Linked DNA regions of Homo sapiens. The protein of the gene in region 2 purifies or fractionates together with the protein of the main gene of each other region. This does not show direct contact. Each region holds a gene or a part of one and is shown on either strand. Other genes may lie near its edges.

Evidence for each region. The genes of interacting proteins can lie anywhere in the genome.
Region 1: the proteins of CDK13 (region 2) and FBXO11 purify together in Homo sapiens (affinity purification with mass spectrometry; 3 studies listed by BioGRID and IntAct, with this or other methods). This does not show direct contact.

What each region holds. Positions count from the first base shown.
Region 1 is NC_000002.12:47,833,391-47,837,042, forward strand, and holds part of FBXO11 (F-box only protein 11), read right to left. Parts: intron 2,612-3,652; coding exon 2,482-2,611; intron 1,482-2,481; coding exon 1,398-1,481; intron 1,322-1,397; coding exon 1,189-1,321; intron 1-1,188. UniProt on the Homo sapiens protein: Substrate recognition component of a SCF (SKP1-CUL1-F-box protein) E3 ubiquitin-protein ligase complex which mediates the ubiquitination and subsequent proteasomal degradation of target proteins, such as DTL/CDT2, BCL6, SNAI1 and PRDM1/BLIMP1.
Region 2 is NC_000007.14:39,953,164-39,956,815, reverse strand, and holds part of CDK13 (cyclin-dependent kinase 13), read right to left. Parts: intron 1-3,652. UniProt on the Homo sapiens protein: Cyclin-dependent kinase which displays CTD kinase activity and is required for RNA splicing.

The DNA of each region.
Region 1 (3,652 bases), on a different chromosome or scaffold from region 2:
AAGAAGAGAAGAGACCTCTATTTAAATTTATTTCCAACAGTGGCCTCGATTTAGAAAGTAATAAAATCACCAGACAAACATTTGCTCTAATCTATTCTCCCCATCTTCATGAGGAGATAGAGGAAGAAAGCAAAAGAGGCTGTAAATGCAAATTTCACTAGCAAATAATAATTACTAGCTATCTTAAAATGTTCTATGTACTGTATCCTCAAAATAAAAAAACCACAAATCTTCAAATGACTCAGTGTTTGACAGATATTACATTTATTCTTAGAAACCTGACCATAAATAGCTTTGAAATAGTACAAAAGTATTTAAAAATTCTATTTCAGTTCCTTTAAAAACATAGCAATAGAAATATTAGCATCTTTCTTTGCAATTCTCCTGCCTCAGCCTCCAGAGTCGCTGGGATTACAGGTGCACACCACCACACCTGGCTAATTTTTTTTGTATTTTTAGTAAAGATGGGGTTTCACCATGTTGGCCAGGCCAGTCTTTAACTCCTGACCTGAAGCGATCCACCCACCTCAGCCTCCCAAACTACTGGGTTTACAGGTGTGAGCCACCACACCTGGCTGCATCTTTATTTTCAAATAAAAGATGAAAAAGCTATTTTTCTTCGTTTAATGAATAACTCAAGGCAAATGGAGAAAGTACTAACATTAGGAAACATATACAGCCAGGCACAGTGGCTCATGTCTGTAATCCCCGCACTTTGGAAGGCCGAGATGGGCAAATCACTTGAGGCCAGGAGTTTGAGACCAGCCTGGCCAACATGGCGAAACCCTATCTCTGCTAAAAATACAAAAATTAGCCACGCATGGTGGTGCATGCCTATAATCCCAGCTACTTGAGAGGTTGAGGCATGAGAATTGCTTGAACCCAGGAGGCAGAGGTTACAGTGAACTGAAATTGTGCCACTGCACTCTAGCCTGAGTGACATAGCTAGACTCTGCATCAAAAAAACAAAAAAGGTTGGGGGGGGCGGGGAGAAAGAATTTATATACAGCTATAATTTCTGAACTCTTATGTTTTCACTTCCTTCACTTAAAATATGTGTGATATCTTCATTCCTACTTTACCAGCAGGATATTATAAAACTGGATTTTAAGTCACTAGCATTTTTAAAATCCTATCACATAAATGAGTAAAATATTAAAATTTTAATGACAATGCATTTCAAAATACCTGCACCAATCATGGTGATTGGAGATTCAATATATATCCATTCATCAGTATATATTCCAGAATGAACAAAGATAAGTCCATCAAAATGAGCCTCTTGTACCCCACCAAGGGCATCTTCAATAGTATCATAATACTAGAAAAAAATAAATGTGTCAGTACAGAACTGAAAGATTACCATTTTAAGTCATAAAAATAAAAATCAAACATACCAACATATTTTCTCTTCCTTTATATCTTGCAGGGTTACTGTAGAAATGTTCAGCAAATCCTGGCTTTACATGTGCACCTTTATACTAAAATGTCAAAAACAAAACAAAACCATTGACTACTAACATAAACCTTATATTTAAATTAATGTACAATTGCATGAACAACTTTTATTACAAATCAAAAATAATTCTCAACTATTCCAAATAATTTTCTGTCAGAGTACAATGTAAAATCTAAAACAAGTTATGATCCGGTAATATCCAGAAACAAAGAACAGGGTTTCTCAATCTCAGCATTACTGATATTTTAAGTCAGTTAATTCTTTGTTATGGGGGCTGTCCTGTGCACTGTAGGATGTTTAGAGGTATCCCTGGCCTCACCCAGCCAAATAGCAGCAGCACACTCTCCTCCCATTGTGACAATCAAAAAATGTCTCCCGACATCGCCAAATGTCCCACAGAAAGCAAAATCATCTCCAGCTGAGACTCACTCACGAAGGGCCGTATAACAATTAAGCTAAATGTGGAACTTTAAAACAAATGCTGAACACTAATAATTTAAATACAAGTTCAAACAGACCCATTGAAATCACAACTGCTCTTAGGCTACTAATGCTTACTGTACTAACTTATTAATGGGGGGATATGTCAGTAGTGAAAAGAATTGCTGAATATTCTGTTGGTTGATAAATGTTCATTAAAACCTACTCAACTTTTTTTTTTTCCCTGAGACAAGAGTCTCACTCTGTCGCCCAGGCTGGAGTGCAGCAGTGCAATGTCAGCTCTCTGCAACTCTGCCTCCTGGGTTCAAGTGATTCTCCTGCCTTAGCCTCCGAAGTAGCTGGGACTACAGGTGTGCGCCACCATGTCCGGCTAATTTTTGTATTTTTAGAAGAGATGGAGTTTCGCCATGTTGGCCAAGCTGGTCTCGAACTCCTGACCTCAGGTAATCCTCCTACCTCGGCCTCCCAAGGTGCTGGGATTACAGGTGTGAGCCACCACGCCCAGCCTAAACTTATTTCTTAAAAGAAAGTTATTTACAAATGTATAATATAAACCAATATATTCTATTTATATTTCATACCAACTGCTGGAAACTCTCTTTCCAGGGATTTGGATGTTCATACTCTTCTGGATTAATCTGGTAGAATTTTCCAGGTTCAGGATGCATCATAGGGCGAGTATATTCAAATACTTCCATATATAATCGTTTCCTGAACAGAGAAAGGAATTAAAATTTTCTTGATAAAATGTCCTTTAGATTAATACAGTTTTGAACAACTATAACAATTATTTGAGGCCTCAAAAACTTGAGTAAGAAAGTAAGAATAGACAAAAATGAATATTAAATCACAGGATTTTTTTTTTGAGACACAGTCTCACTGTCATCCAGGCTAGAATGCAAGTGGCATGATCTTGGCTCACTGCAACCTCCCTCTCCCAGGTTCAAGCCTCAGCCTCCTGAGTAGCTGAGATTATGGGCATGTGTCACCACGCACAGCTAAAAACAGGATTTAAAACGTGAAAACGTATTTTTCACATTTAAAATTTTCAGTGTAGTTGCATATGGAAATTATGTTTTTTTCCTTTTTTTTCTTTGAGACATAGTCTATTTCTATCACCCAGGCTGGAGTGCAGTGCCACGATCTCAGTTCACTGCAACCTCTGCCTCCTGGGCTCAAATGATCCTCCCACCTCAGCCTCCCAAGTAGCTGGAACTACAGGCACATGTTACCCAGGCTGGTCTCGAACTCTGGAGCTCAAGTGATTTACCCACCTCAGCCTCCCTAAGTGCTGGGATTACAGGCGTGAGCCACCATGCCTGGCCGAAAATTAGTTTTCCTGCAAAAATTTTCACAATGTAACTGCGTATGAAAATTTGTCCACACAGAACAACAAAAAGTTTCAATTTCCTTACAAACTGTTTACTCAGGAAGGGGAAAAAAAGTTATCCTTACTGTAAAAACATCATGATTATCACTTAAAAAGATAATTTTCTTTCTTTTTCTTTTTGAGACAGAGTCTCACTCCCGTTGCCCACACTGGAGTGCAGAGGCGTGATCATGGCTCATTGCAGCCTTAACCTCCCAGGTTCAAGTGATCCTCTTGTCTTATTTTTTGATTTTTTTTTGTAGAAATGAGGTCCCAGTATGTTGCCCAGGCTGGTCTCAAACTCCTGGGCTCAAGTAATCTGCCCACTTCAGCCTCCCAAAGTGCTGGGATTATAGGCGTGAGCCACTTCGCCTAGCCTAAAA
Region 2 (3,652 bases):
CAGGAGTTCAAGACAAGTCAGAGCAACATGGTAAAACCCATCACTACAAAAAACACAAAAATTAGCCAGGCATGGTGGCATGCACCTGTAATCCCAGCTACTCGGGAGGCTGAAGCAGGAGGATCCTCTGGGCCCAGGAGTTCGAAGCTGCTGTGAGCCATGATCACATCATCACTGCACTCCAGGGTGGGCAAGTGACCTAGACACTATCCCTAAAAAAAAAAGTTTAGGTTTATTCTAATAATAATTCTAATATAATGGGAGTGACATGAGCTAAACAAAGATATTAAGAAAACTCTCCTGATACAGAATGAACTGAGAAGAATGGATGAAACGAGAAGAATGTTCACAGTAACATGAAGTCTAGCTAATTAACCTGAAATGGTGATAGAAATGGAAAGAAATAAATATTAGCGTTAGCGGAAAAGAAATGTGATAAGGACTGAGTAGATGTAAATGTCAGGTGAAGTTTGGTCAGAGAAGGAGCAAAACACAAGGCCATCACTTTGAGAATGAAAATAATGATTACAGCTTTGGAAATTTAAGACAGTTAACCTAAACTTCCATTCCCTTCTGAGAGTTTCTCCATTTGTTCTAGTATCCTATTTTTTGACACTTTTTAAAAGCATTTTAAGAATTCCATTCACCTAGGGATTTTCATGACTTATTTCTATTAAGTATATATTAAATCAGTGGCATATTTTTTGAGTTTTTTTTTCATTACGGAATATCTTCATTTCATATACTTTTGAACTATAGTTTTCAGGACAAAACACTAAATAATCCATTACAGAGGTACCACATATAACAATAATTTTTCTTATTTATATTTAGAGTCCACCCATCTTTTTCAGATTCTTAGGTTCTTATTATTCCATAATGAATGCTTCTGTGCTTCTTGGTGGAATGGAACTTCCATAGGTTTAGAGAAAGAACAAAACACACATAATAATTTCTTGCACGGATTTTAATCTGACATCAGTAACTTCAGATCAAAATAATTCTGGAAAACCACCACCAATAACTAAGAGTAATTAATGTCTTCAAGAAATGTTTTTAGCCAATCTTTGTAAAGACAAAGTAGGAAAAACATCCACAAGATTTAAACCCAATTGTTCATAAAAACTACAAATAAACACAAATAAGCTGAAAGAATCTTTAGAAGATTCATCTTTTAAAATCTTCAAAATGCTGATAAAATGGCCAAGGAACAGAAACCAACACATAAATACCCAAGCAGAAGCTGATTTTTCACCAAAACAGGTCATTATGTGAGGTGGCCAGCGCCCCTGAATGCCAACTAAATTTCAATAAAGCATATGCTTTAAGTGGTAAGTGGCCCATGTTCTTTAATGAATAGACTGCTGTTAGAATTCTTCATATTGTAACCAAAATCCACCTTCATATTGTAACCAAAATCCATGCTCTTTAATATTAAGAGCATGTACTTTCAAATCAGCCTAGGGTTTGAATCCAAGCTGACCTTGGAACAAATCGCTTAAAACCTTTTAGAGCTCCCGTTTCCCAATCCATCAATGGGAATGTTTCCAACTATCACATGGATTTTGGTGGTCAATATATGTTAAATATTTATCAATGCCTGGCACACAGTAAAACACTACAAACGGTACCCTCCCCTCTTTTCAGCACACCCTCACATTTATTATAGGGCCAGTCAGCAAGATTACGTGACCTTCCACACCCCAACAGTCAAGTAGTAAAGAAAATACGGCAAACAGATTATACAGGGGAAAAAGTAAAGCTAAGAGGGAACTGATGAAAAGAAATGCATGAGCCGAGGACTGAAGATTCAAATGAAGACAAAGAACAAGTTGTGAAGTGGAAATCACTAAAATGAAAAGGATTTATTTATCTGACATCAAAAAAAGCTTCAGGCTGGATGTGGTGGCTCACACCTGTAATCCCTGGACTTTGGGAGGCTGATGCAGCAGGTGGATCATTTGAGCCCAGGAGTTTGACACCAGCCTGGGCAACATGGTGAAACCCTATCTCTATTTTCAGCTTATTTAAAATTGTTTTTCATCTTCATACCACGATTTCAATACTATTTTGAATGTGTATGCATTTCCTTGAAAATATCTACGCTGACAATTCATTAATATGTAAGTTCTGCATAGGCTGGGGAAATATTACACTGTTTCTTACAGCATTACACATGGTCTGTATTAAATATTTTGAATGAAGTTTGTAATACAAAGCCCACATTAATATTTTGTATGTTCAGTAAACTCCAGCATCCCTTCATTTACACCTATTCAACATTTATTAAGAGTGTACTTGTGCCAGATACAGTGCTGAGCACTAGAAATACAATGATGGATAAGACAGCCCAGTTGCCTTCATGGAACTCACAGCAGTCCATTCATTAAAGAACATGGGCCACTTACCACAAGTAATAAATTCTGAAAATAAATAAAACTTTTCCATTAATCTGTACAAGTGAGTTCAATTAACCGTTCCTAAAAAGTAACAATACACTTATTATATTTTAAAATCTTTAGATTTTTCCAATCAACTATTTTAGCTATTAATTCTAGGCCCTATGTTTTAAGCTGGACATTTGACAAACTAGATATAATGTGAAAAATCTGAAAACCGTATGAGTTTTTTAGTCTAGAAGACTCAGAAATCATGACAACTGTCTTTATATTTTAAAGGGTTAGCATACACGTGTGCTCTGTACCATTCCAAAGGGTTAAACTTGGAGCAATGGTTCGAAGGTGGATTTTGGTCACAATATGAAGAATTCTAACAATTTGGGATATTGAATAATTCAACGACCTTAAATATTTCTGTAAGGCTGCATGCTTTAAAAAGATAAATTTTCACTTAATCCTTGAAATAATCCAGAAAAACAAGTGTTTCCCTGTTACAGTTTAGGAAACTGAGTCTTCAAGGATCTTGCTAAAACACTCAAGTCCCAAATCTAGTGAACAGGTTGCCTCTAACTAACGTGCTTCCCACCTCTAGATGTATTTCAGGCACATACCAAATGGCCATCTGTCAGCAATGTTAGCCAAGACACCCTAAAGTTCCTTCCAAATTCAACTCTTTAGAAATACTGGTGGTCAATGTAAACACCATGAAAAGATTATGTGTTGAACGGTCCTCCAGAATGCAAGCTCTATGAGGGCAAGTAACTTTTTCTTTCCTGCTACATCCCAATACCTAAAACAGTATATGGCATACAATACAGGGTCAAAAAATACTTGCTAAATATGAATAGTCCTAGTCATACATACCACGATTATATATTTCATATATGTATATAAAAAATACATACCACTATTATACAATAAAGGATCTCGCTGAAGTATCCAGCAACTAAAAAACCTGATAAGTACAAAATCCATTCTTAAAATTGCATCAAGCACTTTAAATTGTTCAAGTGCTGAAACTTCAACCAACCAGTTTGCAAAACAAATTCAACTGCAAAAACTGCAAACCCTTTGGCAAAGTATTATAGTTAAAAGTAACATACAAAGTCTTACAAGATACAATGGCTAATTTTGATGAATGAGTTTTTCAATTCTTCGCTAAGGTATCAACTAACATTTTAAGTATGCTTCAACACTCTTTAAGAGTGAAGCAATTTATAGAACTTTTTTGGCTTAAAGACAAACTCACGCTC